Regions from separate parts of the Homo sapiens genome. Here region 1 is linked to region 2. Evidence: fine-mapped expression QTL. A gene starts in region 2. The other region holds a variant in brackets. All regions are shown on one strand. Distances are from middle to middle.

Region 1 (5,000 bases), 430 kb after region 2:
CAGGAGGTGGAGGTTGCAGTGAGCCGAGACCATGCCATTGCACTCCAGCCTGGGTGACAGAGTGAGACTCAGTCTCAAAAAAAATAAAAAATAAAAAATGTAGTTCACTAATTAAAAAAACTCTACAGGTGAATAGGATGTTCAAAATTGTTTATTGATATGATACATAATTATTTTTAAAAACCTTAGAAATAGACTAGTATCATTTTCATTAAAGTATACATGTCATGCTGACTAATTGACGTAGAAGTTTTACAACTCTAAATCTGACATCTGTTAACCCTTTAGATATGCAAAATAATCCTTGAAATAATAATGCTAGGCCACCGTGGTAGCTCATACCTGTAACGTCAACACTTTGGAAGGCTGAGGTAGGAGGGTTGCTTGAGCCCAGGAGTTTGAGACCAGCCTAGGCCATACTATGAGACCCTGTCTCTACTGAAACTGAAATTTTAGAAAATTAGGCGTGTTGGCAAACACCTATGGTTCCAGCTACTTGGGAGGCTGAGGTGGGAGGATTGCTTGAGCCCAGAAGTTGGAGGCTGCAGTGAGCTGTAATTATGTAACTGTGCTCTAGCCTGTACGACAGAGCGAGACCTTGTCTCAAAATAAATAAATGAATTAATTCAATAAAACTAGTTACTACAAAATAAAACCATTAAAGGATTGTACACTTGCAATTCTGACATACACAGCCTTCCCTGCATGTAATCAAAATGGATCAGAAATCTTCTTGGAACAAGAAGATGGCAGAGACTGAAGGGAACTGCCAACTTAGAATGACTGGCATAGAAGGAATTACTGAAACTCAGGGAAGGTAATTGTGTTCTTCTTTGGCAGGTCCGGTTTCTAAATAGATAGGGAATTTCAGAGAACAACTTCATTCTGTGCTTTGCAAAAAACAGAAGATTGTGGGGAGGGGTCTGGTGGAGAGGGCATGACTTAGAGAGACCTTGAGGCTGCTGCTTCAATCCAGCATGTCAAAGCACCATGTTTGGGGGCCTTAGTTACTGAGCCTCAAAAATACCACATTTGCAAATTCATTTAGTATATTGAATACAAATGAGTGAGTACCCTACTGTTAATTGTTAACGCTGTGAGACTTAACCTCCATTCTCCCTCAAGAACTGGCCCATACTATTACTGATACTTGGCCATGAAAGTTTTGAACTGTGGGTGTATTAGTTCGTTCTCACGCTGCTAATAAAGACATAACCCAAGACTGTGTAATTTATAAAGGAAAGAGGTTTAATTGACTCACAGTTCAACATGGCTGGGGAGACCTCAGGAAACTTACAGTCATGGCAGAAGGGGAAGCAAAAGTGTCCTCCTTCACATGGCAGCAGCAAGGAGAAGTACCGAGCAAAAGGGGAAAAACCCCTTATAAAATCATCAGATCTTGTGAGAACTCACTATCATAAGAACAGCAGCATGGGGGTAACCGCCTCCATGATTCAGTTACCTCCCACCAGGTCCCTCCCACGACATGTCGGGATTATGGGATCTACAATTCAGGGTGAGATTTGGGTGAGGACACAGCCAAACCGTATCAGTGGGTATAGTCACAATAAGAATTTTTTTTTCTTTTTTGTTTTTTGTTTTGAGACGAGTCTCACCCTGTCACCCAGGCTGGAGTACAATGGCACGATCTTGGCTGACCACAACCTCTGCCTCCTGGGTTCAAATGATTCTCTTGCCTCAGCTTCTCGAGTAGCTGGGCTAACAGGCGTGTGCCACCACACTTGGCTAATTTTTGTATTTATAGTAGAGATGAGGTTTCACCATTTTGGCCACGCTGGTCTTGAACTCCTGACCTCAGGTTATCCGCCCGCCTCGGCCTCCCAAAGTGCTGGGATTGCAGGCGTGAGCCACTGCCCCCCACCACAGCAAGAATTCTTACATGTTGCTGGGAAGAATATAAATGGGCGTGGTGACTTCTGAGAATAATAAGGCAATCAATGCCTATAAAGCTGAAAGTTCGCATCCTTTAATCTACCAGTTTCCCTTCTTTGTGTCTATCCTGAAGGAATGTATGT[C/CTGTG]TGTGTGTGTGTGTGTGTGTGTGTGTGTGTGCGTACACGAGATGTGCAAGGATATTTGTTTCAATATTGCTCATGACAAAAAAATATAAAAACTATCTTTCCGTAGGGAAATATATAAACTGGTTTTATTTGTATAATGGAATATTGTATAGCAGTAAAGATGCTCAAACTAGGGATCTGTTATCAACACACAGCTCAAAAACATAATATATGGAAATACAGGTTTCAAGATAAAAACCATGTAATTCCATCTGTTTAAATATATTAAATGCAAACAGTAATGTATATTGTTCGAGAACATGAATATATATTTAAGAGTATAAAACATACATGGTAATCATGCACATCATTATTATGATAATGGTTATCCAGAGGTGTGGTTTGAGCTATGTCTATACTGTATTAATTTTTTTTTTTTTTTGAGGCGGAGTCTTGTTCTGTCACCCAGGCTAGAGTGCAGTGTTGTGATCTTGGCTCACTGCAACCTCCGCCTCCTGGGTTCAAGTGATTCTCCTGCCTCAGCCTCCTGAGTAGCTGGGACTACAGGCGCATACCACCATGCCTGGCTAATTTTTTGTATTTTTAGTAGAGACAGGGTTTCACCTTGTTAGCCAGGATTGTCTTGATCTCCTTACCTCGTGATCCGCCCGCCTTCGCCTCCCAAAGTGCTGGGATTACAGGCGTGAGCCACTGTGCCTGGCCCAATACTGTATTAATTTTTGAGAGAGAAAGAAGAGAAGAAGGTTCAGTCTGAAGCAAACATGGGAAAACATTCTAACTAGTGGGTACATGTATCATATTGTTGGCTATATAAATGTCTTTCATTCTTTTAAATGTGTTTTAAAATACTATACGTTGAAAATAAAGTATTTACATGCTACTTTATATAGCTCAAGTGATCCTCCCACCTCAGCCTCCTGAGTAGCTGGGAATACAGGCATATATCACCATGCTAATTTTTTATTTTTTGTAGAGAGGCTTCACTATTGCCCACGCTAGTCTTGAGCTACTGGACTAAAGCAGTCCTCCCACCTCAGCCTCCCAAAGTGCTGAGATTACAGACGTGAGTCACTACATCCTGCCCAGAATTTGACTCAGACTGACTGAAGTGATAGCAAGTTTTACAAATTATTGAATTGTATCCTCTTATTTCTAATTTGTTCTTTCTATTTTAAAACTGCAATATAATTACCATGAATAGTCTAGCAGTTTGATTGTCTGTCAATAAATGAAGGGTTTTATATAAAGTTAATTTCTTTGTTTTATAGGAAAAACATCAGAGAGAGGCTCATTTTCCCTGTACAGCAGAGATACTGGATTACCAGGCTGTCAAGTAAGTTTAATGATTAAAAAAAGCAATGAGATGGTTTTTAAACACATAAATAAAGGCTCTATTAATAGATGAGATAGAAATTATCCAATTTATTTCACTACTGTTTGTTTAATTTGTAACTAAGTGTTGTTTTTTGCTCTCTTTGCTTAAAATTGTTTCAGTTCCCCAGTTTACCAGGCTGTCTTTATCATCAAAGATTTTCATAACCCACCTCCATTTTAACTGGAAACAAAGCTACCGCTTTCCAAAATGCTTGTCATTTCTGAGAAATTTTTTTGCATATTTTCTCACAGAAAACGTAATTGGTGGTACATAAAGAATATATGATTGATCTGCATAGCTTAAATATCCTGTAATGTCAAACTGATCATTAATATTGGAAGTATTTTGTTTTCAATCCTGCATGTAACCAATTTTTAGGCTTCACACCCTCCCTGACTTGGAATCTTTGTTTCGACTCTCCCACCTTCTCTAGCATTTTGTGCTTCTGCTAATGGGCATCTTTTCTGCCTTTTTCCTCATATCTTTAGACTGAGAATCCTGAACACACAATTCACCTGCAGATTCCCATCAGAATCAAGCCAAAAAGAATAGAAAGGAAAGGCAGAACATATTAAATTTGTTTTCTGCCATCTGCATGCTCTACATGAGGGCCCACCCTAATTTCAGGCATGGGCATGTGAGCCGGTTTTAACTGCCATGCTAATAATACTCCATTTAATACATATTTCATAATTGTGCCTCTAAGAGAGTTTTACATAACATCCTGTTTTGTGATATGCCTTCCCATTATAAAATAATGTATTGTAGTAGGCTGGCCACGGTGGCTCACGCCTGTAATCCCAATACTTTGGGAGACTGAGGTAGGAGAATCACTTGAGCTCAAGAGTTTGAGACCAACCTGGGCAACATAGTGAGACCTTGTCTCTACTTAAAATGTAAAAATCAGCCAGGTGTAGTGGTGCATGCCTGTAGTCTCAGCTGCTTGGGAGGCTGAAGCAGGAGGATCACTTGAGCCCAGGAGTTGAAGGCTGCAGTGACCCATGATTGCACCACTGCTCTCCAACCAGGGTGACAGTAAGACTCTGTCTCAAAAAGAGAGAGAGAGAAAGGAGGGAAGGAGGGAAGAGAAGGAAGGGAGAAGGAAAGGAAGAAAGAGAGAGAGAAAATAAATATATTGTAAAAATTCAGGATCATATATTCCCATGTCCTTAATGGCAAATAGGCATGGTCTGAATAAGTGATTTGTTAAATATCATAGATTTGGGGGTAGTTACTGGACCAACACTCAGATTTCTTGGCTTCAGACCAAGCAGTCTTACTCTATTTTCATCCAAGTGATTTTTTAAAGTTTTAGTGTTGTTAATGATTGCTCTATTTTCCGTTTATGGTTAGCTTTATTTTATTCTAGTCATTTAAAATATATATAGATTAGCATTGTGTCATAGCCAGTGTTTTGCCTTACCAGCTCTTACTAGCTGACAAGAGCCGAATCTGTTAAACTTTTAGGAATTTAGCAAGTATGGTTGACATCACACTGATATCTTAAAATTGGCTATTATGAGCTGGGCACTGTGGTTTATACTTGTAGTCCCAGCTACTTGGAAAGCCAAAGCAGAAGGATCACTTCA
Region 2 (5,528 bases):
GAAAATTCAAAGTTTTTAATTCCTTTCTAAAGCAAGAAAAAAACTATTCAGGATTTATATATTTAATTAGTGAATATGTCGTAAGTATTCCTCATCTTCCAAAACTTGCTTTTGGAATAACAAAGTATGTTGTCAATAGAAATATCCAATTTCCTGTCACCTAAAACTACAGTTGACTTTTCATTTGTGAAAACTGCTATTTCAGTGAGCCAATGCTGATTAATAGAACACTGGAATGAAAAAGGACTGGATTAGTAGCCTAACTGGACAGATGTTCCAGTTGAAGCACTTGCAATCCTCCAACATCAAACTACTTCAGAACTTTTCTATTTACCATAGCTTACTATGGCTAAAATGGTCCTAAGCAAACTTTCAAAGAAGGCAAAGCTTTCTGACATCTACTTTCTGCCTCCTCTCTCCTAGTCTCCCTAGGCTCTGATGCCAACACATAGAAGCATTCCAAGTTCCCTAAAGTAGATGGGTTAGTATTTCCTCCAGAATTGTCTCCACTTCTTCTTCTTCCTAACTTCCAAAGCCATACCTAAACGACTGCTCCCAACTGTGTTTATCAGATTACTGCAGGTAAATTCCTACCAACTACTAATGCCAAAATATCACACCACAAATGACTTGCTAATTGCAGAAGGAAATGCTTACAATGGAAAGATAGCTTGTCACCACCTTATCTAAGAGATCAAATTTAGGATTATTAATAAGACAAGCCTACTTTATGTGCCTTTGGATGTTGTATGCAATGAAGCATACTGCATGGCTTATGAAGTATTCCTGTCAAAAAAATATTAAACCTAAATATATTCAAGCCTTTAGACCCAAATCCAAGTTTAGAGAAAACAGAGAGGATAGGGGGAACAAATTTAAACACTATCAGGAGGAACTATCACTAAAACATGGAATATGGGTTATTCTGAAAGACTACAGACCAGGTCTCTTCAAAAGGTCAATTTCGCCCAGTGCTGTGGCTCACATCTGTAATCCCAGCACTTTGGGAGGCCGAGGCAGGTGGATCACTTGAACCCAGGAGTTTGACACCAGCCTAGGTAACACGGCAAAACCCCATCTCTACAAAAAATACAAAAATTAGCTGAGTGTGGTGGCGTGCTCCTGGGTTCCCAGCTACTCAGGAGGCCGAGGTGGGAGGATGGCTTGAGCCCAGGAAGGAGGTCAAGGATGCAGCGAGCCAAGACTGCTCCACAGCGCTCCATCCTGGGACACAGAGCAAGTACCTATCTCAAAAAAAAAAAAAAAAAAAAAAGACTGAAAAGGAATTTTGAAGAAATGGGGGGAAATGTGAATATATACTACACCACGTTAGATTTTAAGGAATATTCTTCACTTTCTTAAGTGTGATTGCGGTATTGTTACACAGAAAAATGGCCTTGATCTCTTACAAAATACATACTGACACACATACAGCATTTAGGGCTGAACTGTCATATCCGTAATGCACTTTGAAACGTTCAGAAAACAGAATGTGAGATAAGTGGAAAAATGCAAATATGGCAAAAAGGTAGCGTTAAAACTAAGTGTTCAAATGGGCTATTTAACTTTCCAATATTTTCGAAAAAAATAGCAAGTTGCAAAGTTAAGAAATTAACTCGAGAATAAAAATATAAAAGCCAGGCTAGATGGTGCACACCTGTAATCCCAGCTACGGAGGCTGAGGTGAGAGGTCAGCTTGAGCCCAGGAGTCTGAGACCAGCCTGGGCAACATAACAACCGCATTTCAAAAGTAAAGTATAAAAATATCAACGAAAGGGCAACTGAGTAATGTTTCTTAAAATCTTTAAGTGAGCCTCCTTGCCTATTCTCATCTACCTCATTCCCACAAAAATGGTATATACTAGAGTTGAGCACCGGAGAAGGAGTCAGAAGACCTAAGGTTCTATTAATATAATTGGCCTTGGCTCTTCCTAGTCAGTGACCTCATTAAAGTCCTCTCCCTGAGGCTCTGTTTCCTCGCCTGCAAAATGATTCCAGCAACCCAGACCACTTCAAAAGGGGCTAAGAGATACAAATCAGGGGTTATCAATGAAAGGCACAAAAGCAAGACACAATTACAACAGTATTTGTAGTGATGTTAAAACATCAGAGGCACACAGCCCTAACAATGGTATAAGCAAACCAGTGCCTTCCCTGGTTAAGTTTCTGCGTGGAGACAGCTGGAGTTGGCACAGCAGTCCCCCAAAGCAGGACACCTTACAGATGCTAAGAGGCAGCTTTTGTGCTTTAAAACTGTCCTTCTAGCGTTCCATTTTATGTTTCATGGCACTAAAAAAGACAAATTCTGTCCAAACCTGAAAATAAAGCCAAATATTTAAGATGACAGATTTTTTTTTTTTTAACAAATCTTCGCAAACAAAGGCCTTTGGCCAAAGGTCTCCCGTGCTTGCAGAAGCGGGTTCACCTTGACGTTTTTCCTCTCCAGCAGATTTCTCCTTAAAAGCGTTAAAACTTGCGATAAGTTGGGAGGAATTCCTTCCATCGCTGGAGCAGGCTAAAACCTCAGAGTGAGATCATTCTTTCCGTCTCAGTAAGTGAACCTTGCAAAGCTCAGAAAATTTTGTCTCCAACTCCACGTTTCTCCTCAGGGCCCTTCTTCTGTAGACAATAACGGGAATTCTATGGCAGAGGAGGGGAGGTCTCTTTGACAAAAATGAGGGTGCAAACGTGGAACGACCGGTCATCTGGGCAAAATGAGGGGCCCTGTGCCTGCAAATCCCGAATCCCCTTTGGTCTCCTTTCCTACGACTGAAGAGACACGGGGGTGGGCTGTGGTGTGAGGACCATGGGTCTTGGCCAAACATCGGCACAAAATGTACCAAAGGGAGTTGCCTCCAGAGAGAAAAGCCAAAACCAGGCTGGGGACAAACAGGCGCACACGCCTGGGAGAGGAGGTGGCGGAGGAGCAGAAGGCGAAGGCCTGCGCGGCCCAGGCCTGCAGCAGCCGAGGCGGCTGCCGCGTCGCGCCGGGATACCTCCTCCCCCGCCTGGGCCGACGCAAGATGGCGGTCCGGCCGCCGCCGCGCAGCCGGTCTCCTCCCCCGCGCTCTGGGCGCTCCCGACGACCCGCGCCGGCCTCAAGACCCCCAGTCCAGCGCCCCCGGAGTGAGGCGGCGCAGGCCGCGCGGGAGGGCCTCTGCCTGCTGCAGCGCAGGGCGGGCGGGGGCGGGGGGGCGCTTACCGTGAGCGGAGCGGATCGGCCTGACTGGAGCCCTGAGGAGGAGGAGAAAGAGGAGGAGGAAAAGGAGGAGCACGAAAAACTACACTGCGGCGACGGCGGCGGCTCCCATTGCGGAGCTGGCAGCCGAGCCGTGGAAAGGGGGGGGCTCTCGTGCAGCCGGCGCGCTGCCTCATGGGTAGGCTCCGGGTCAGCCTCCCCGTGTCCGAGCTCCCTGTCTTCTCGCCGACGCGGGAGGCGGGCACCGGCATGTGCGCCGCGTCGCGGGCCCTCGAAGACCCACGCGCCCCGCCACGCGCCGGTCCGGGGCGAGGGCCAGGGCCCTGCCTCCATGTGGGTGCGAGCTGCTGGCTGGTGTGGCCGGGAGGCAGCCCCAAAATCCGGACTGCTCGGAATTTGCAGGCGAGGAGCCGTGCGTTCCGGGCCCTCCGCGTGTGTAACGACCCCCAGTCCGTTGGCTTGGAAAGTGAAAAGGTCATGGGATACAGCCGCCGTTCGAAAGAAGCAAGGGGCCTGTGGGTCGAAGACTAAACCAGGAGAGAAAAAGGAATCGTCCGTTTCTTTAAATAACGAGCTGATTTTACCAAGTCTGTTTTAAATGTGTGGTTTTGCTTGCGTTCCCTGTCGAGGTCAAATACGAAGAGACGAATCTGTACATTTAGCGTTTTATTTGGGACACAGGAATTGCAAGTTCAGGTTATTTACACATACAGGGTGGTCTTCAGTATGTCAGAAGAACAAAGAGGAGTTAGGGGGTTTTATTTTTTAAAAAAAGTTATCTATTGTTTTTCTAGAAAGTTCGTTGACATTTAGTAAAGTTTTGGGTAGCTGGTTAGTTCTGACTGGTGAGGGAAGGGGCTTGGTAAAGCTTGCCCTACAGCTGCAGCAGGTTCTTTGAGAAGCTAAAACCTGAAGATAAAACCTGTTTCAGGTTACAGCAGGCGGTTTCAGCAGCCAGGCTTGCTGAGAATTCCATTCTTAGAGCAATGTTATGTGCCCTGAGGGCTTCCCCCAGCACTGGCTTCTCCATTCTTTTAGTTGGCTATGACAAGAGTGACCCAATTAGAATGATTAACTTGCACACTCTAATTCCTAACTCTGCCATCTGCATATTAACCTGTAATAGCATTTTTTAAAGTTTGACAACGAGAAGTATAAGAAATTTACAAGAAGAACACTTGCCAAGATACTGCTTGCGTAAATACTTGCTAAAGGTTGTATTCTGATCTGTAAGGAAAGTTTCCTAAACTGATTGTCTTCTCAAGAGCAATGGCATTACTGGTGCAGCTTGTGAGTGACCAAGACTTGAAATCTTGCCTGTTAGGATCCATAACAGACACCCTGTTCAATCACTGAATCTTGCTAATTCATCTTCCTATTCGAATTCAGTTTCTTCTCTCTCATCTGGCTTTCCCCAGTTTTTCTCAAGTGTTTATCATTACTGTAGTCTCCATATTGATTACTGCCCCCAAATTAATCTTCCCCAAAGACCACCTGGATCACTCCTACAGATCTGGTGTACTTGGAGGTAACCATGACCTATCCTTCTCCCACATGGGCCTGGGATCATCTACCCAGCTTTCCCTTTTCTGCTGGCCCTGAAAAATAAACCTTACAGGAAAAGACAGAAAATAGTCAAAACAGCAAACATGGAAAGTTTAAAAATTCCAAAATCTTGGAACATTCTTAAGACATCGTTTTTCAAATGTCCCTAAAGGTTAGCAAAGCATGCTACAGTGTCAGGTGAAATTACAACAAATTTAAAGATCTCGGTTGGCTTTATTGCAATTCTAGATTCAGGCACCACTTCATTCAGTAAAACAGAATAGGTGTTCCCATGAATGGAGCAGATGTGGTTGGCTTTATAGACAGAAAATGGGCTGAAGAAAGAAGAAACAACAAAAAACAAGTTGGTCTTTTCAAAGTTACTTTCCTTGTAAGGTGGGGCACTGAGACAGAATAATAGAAAGAAAACTGATTGGTTAATACCAGGTTACTCCAGATTAATATTGTAAGAACAACAGCAGCCAGGTGTGGTGGTGTGTACCTGTAGTCCCAGCTACTGAGGAGGCTGAGGCAAGAGGATTCCTTCAGTCCAGGAGTTCAAGGCTGCAATGAGCCATGATCCTGCCACTGCAGTCCAGCCTGAGCAACAGATCAAGACGTTGTCTCAAAAACAAACAAAAACGACTTAAAACAGGGAACTTCATTATCATGGGGATTGAAGGTTTAAACTGGCCTGTTTGGGAAATTAGGCTGTTATCTCTCTCCTGATTTCTCAGAAGGCCACATAACAACTCAGTTTCAGTTTTGTGAGCATGGGTAACTC

Which allele goes with the higher level. Alleles are on the strand shown, and positions count from the first base shown. SD is a standard deviation of normalised expression in the study named.
With allele CTGTG in place of C in region 1, the expression in monocytes after triphosphate RNA of the gene that starts at base 3,254 in region 2 is higher (moderate effect, 0.67 SD a copy in Kim-Hellmuth 2017).

The links.
Region 1: its variant is fine-mapped to the expression of ZNF280D in monocytes after triphosphate RNA (Kim-Hellmuth 2017, PIP 0.95).

The regions. Positions count from the first base shown.
Region 1 is chr15:57,163,098-57,168,097 of GRCh38, forward strand. It overlaps TCF12 (transcription factor 12), which reads left to right. Exons shown (of 21, transcript NM_207037.2): 6 at 3,305-3,369. Among named protein-coding and RNA genes, the nearest start is that of SNORD13D, 110 kb to the right of the region's middle. The variant C/CTGTG (reference allele first, on the strand shown) is at 2,037.
Region 2 is chr15:56,730,256-56,735,783 of GRCh38, forward strand. It overlaps ZNF280D (zinc finger protein 280D), which reads right to left and starts at 3,254. Exons shown (of 22, transcript NM_017661.4): 1 at 3,203-3,254. RefSeq lists a silencer at 3,004-3,273.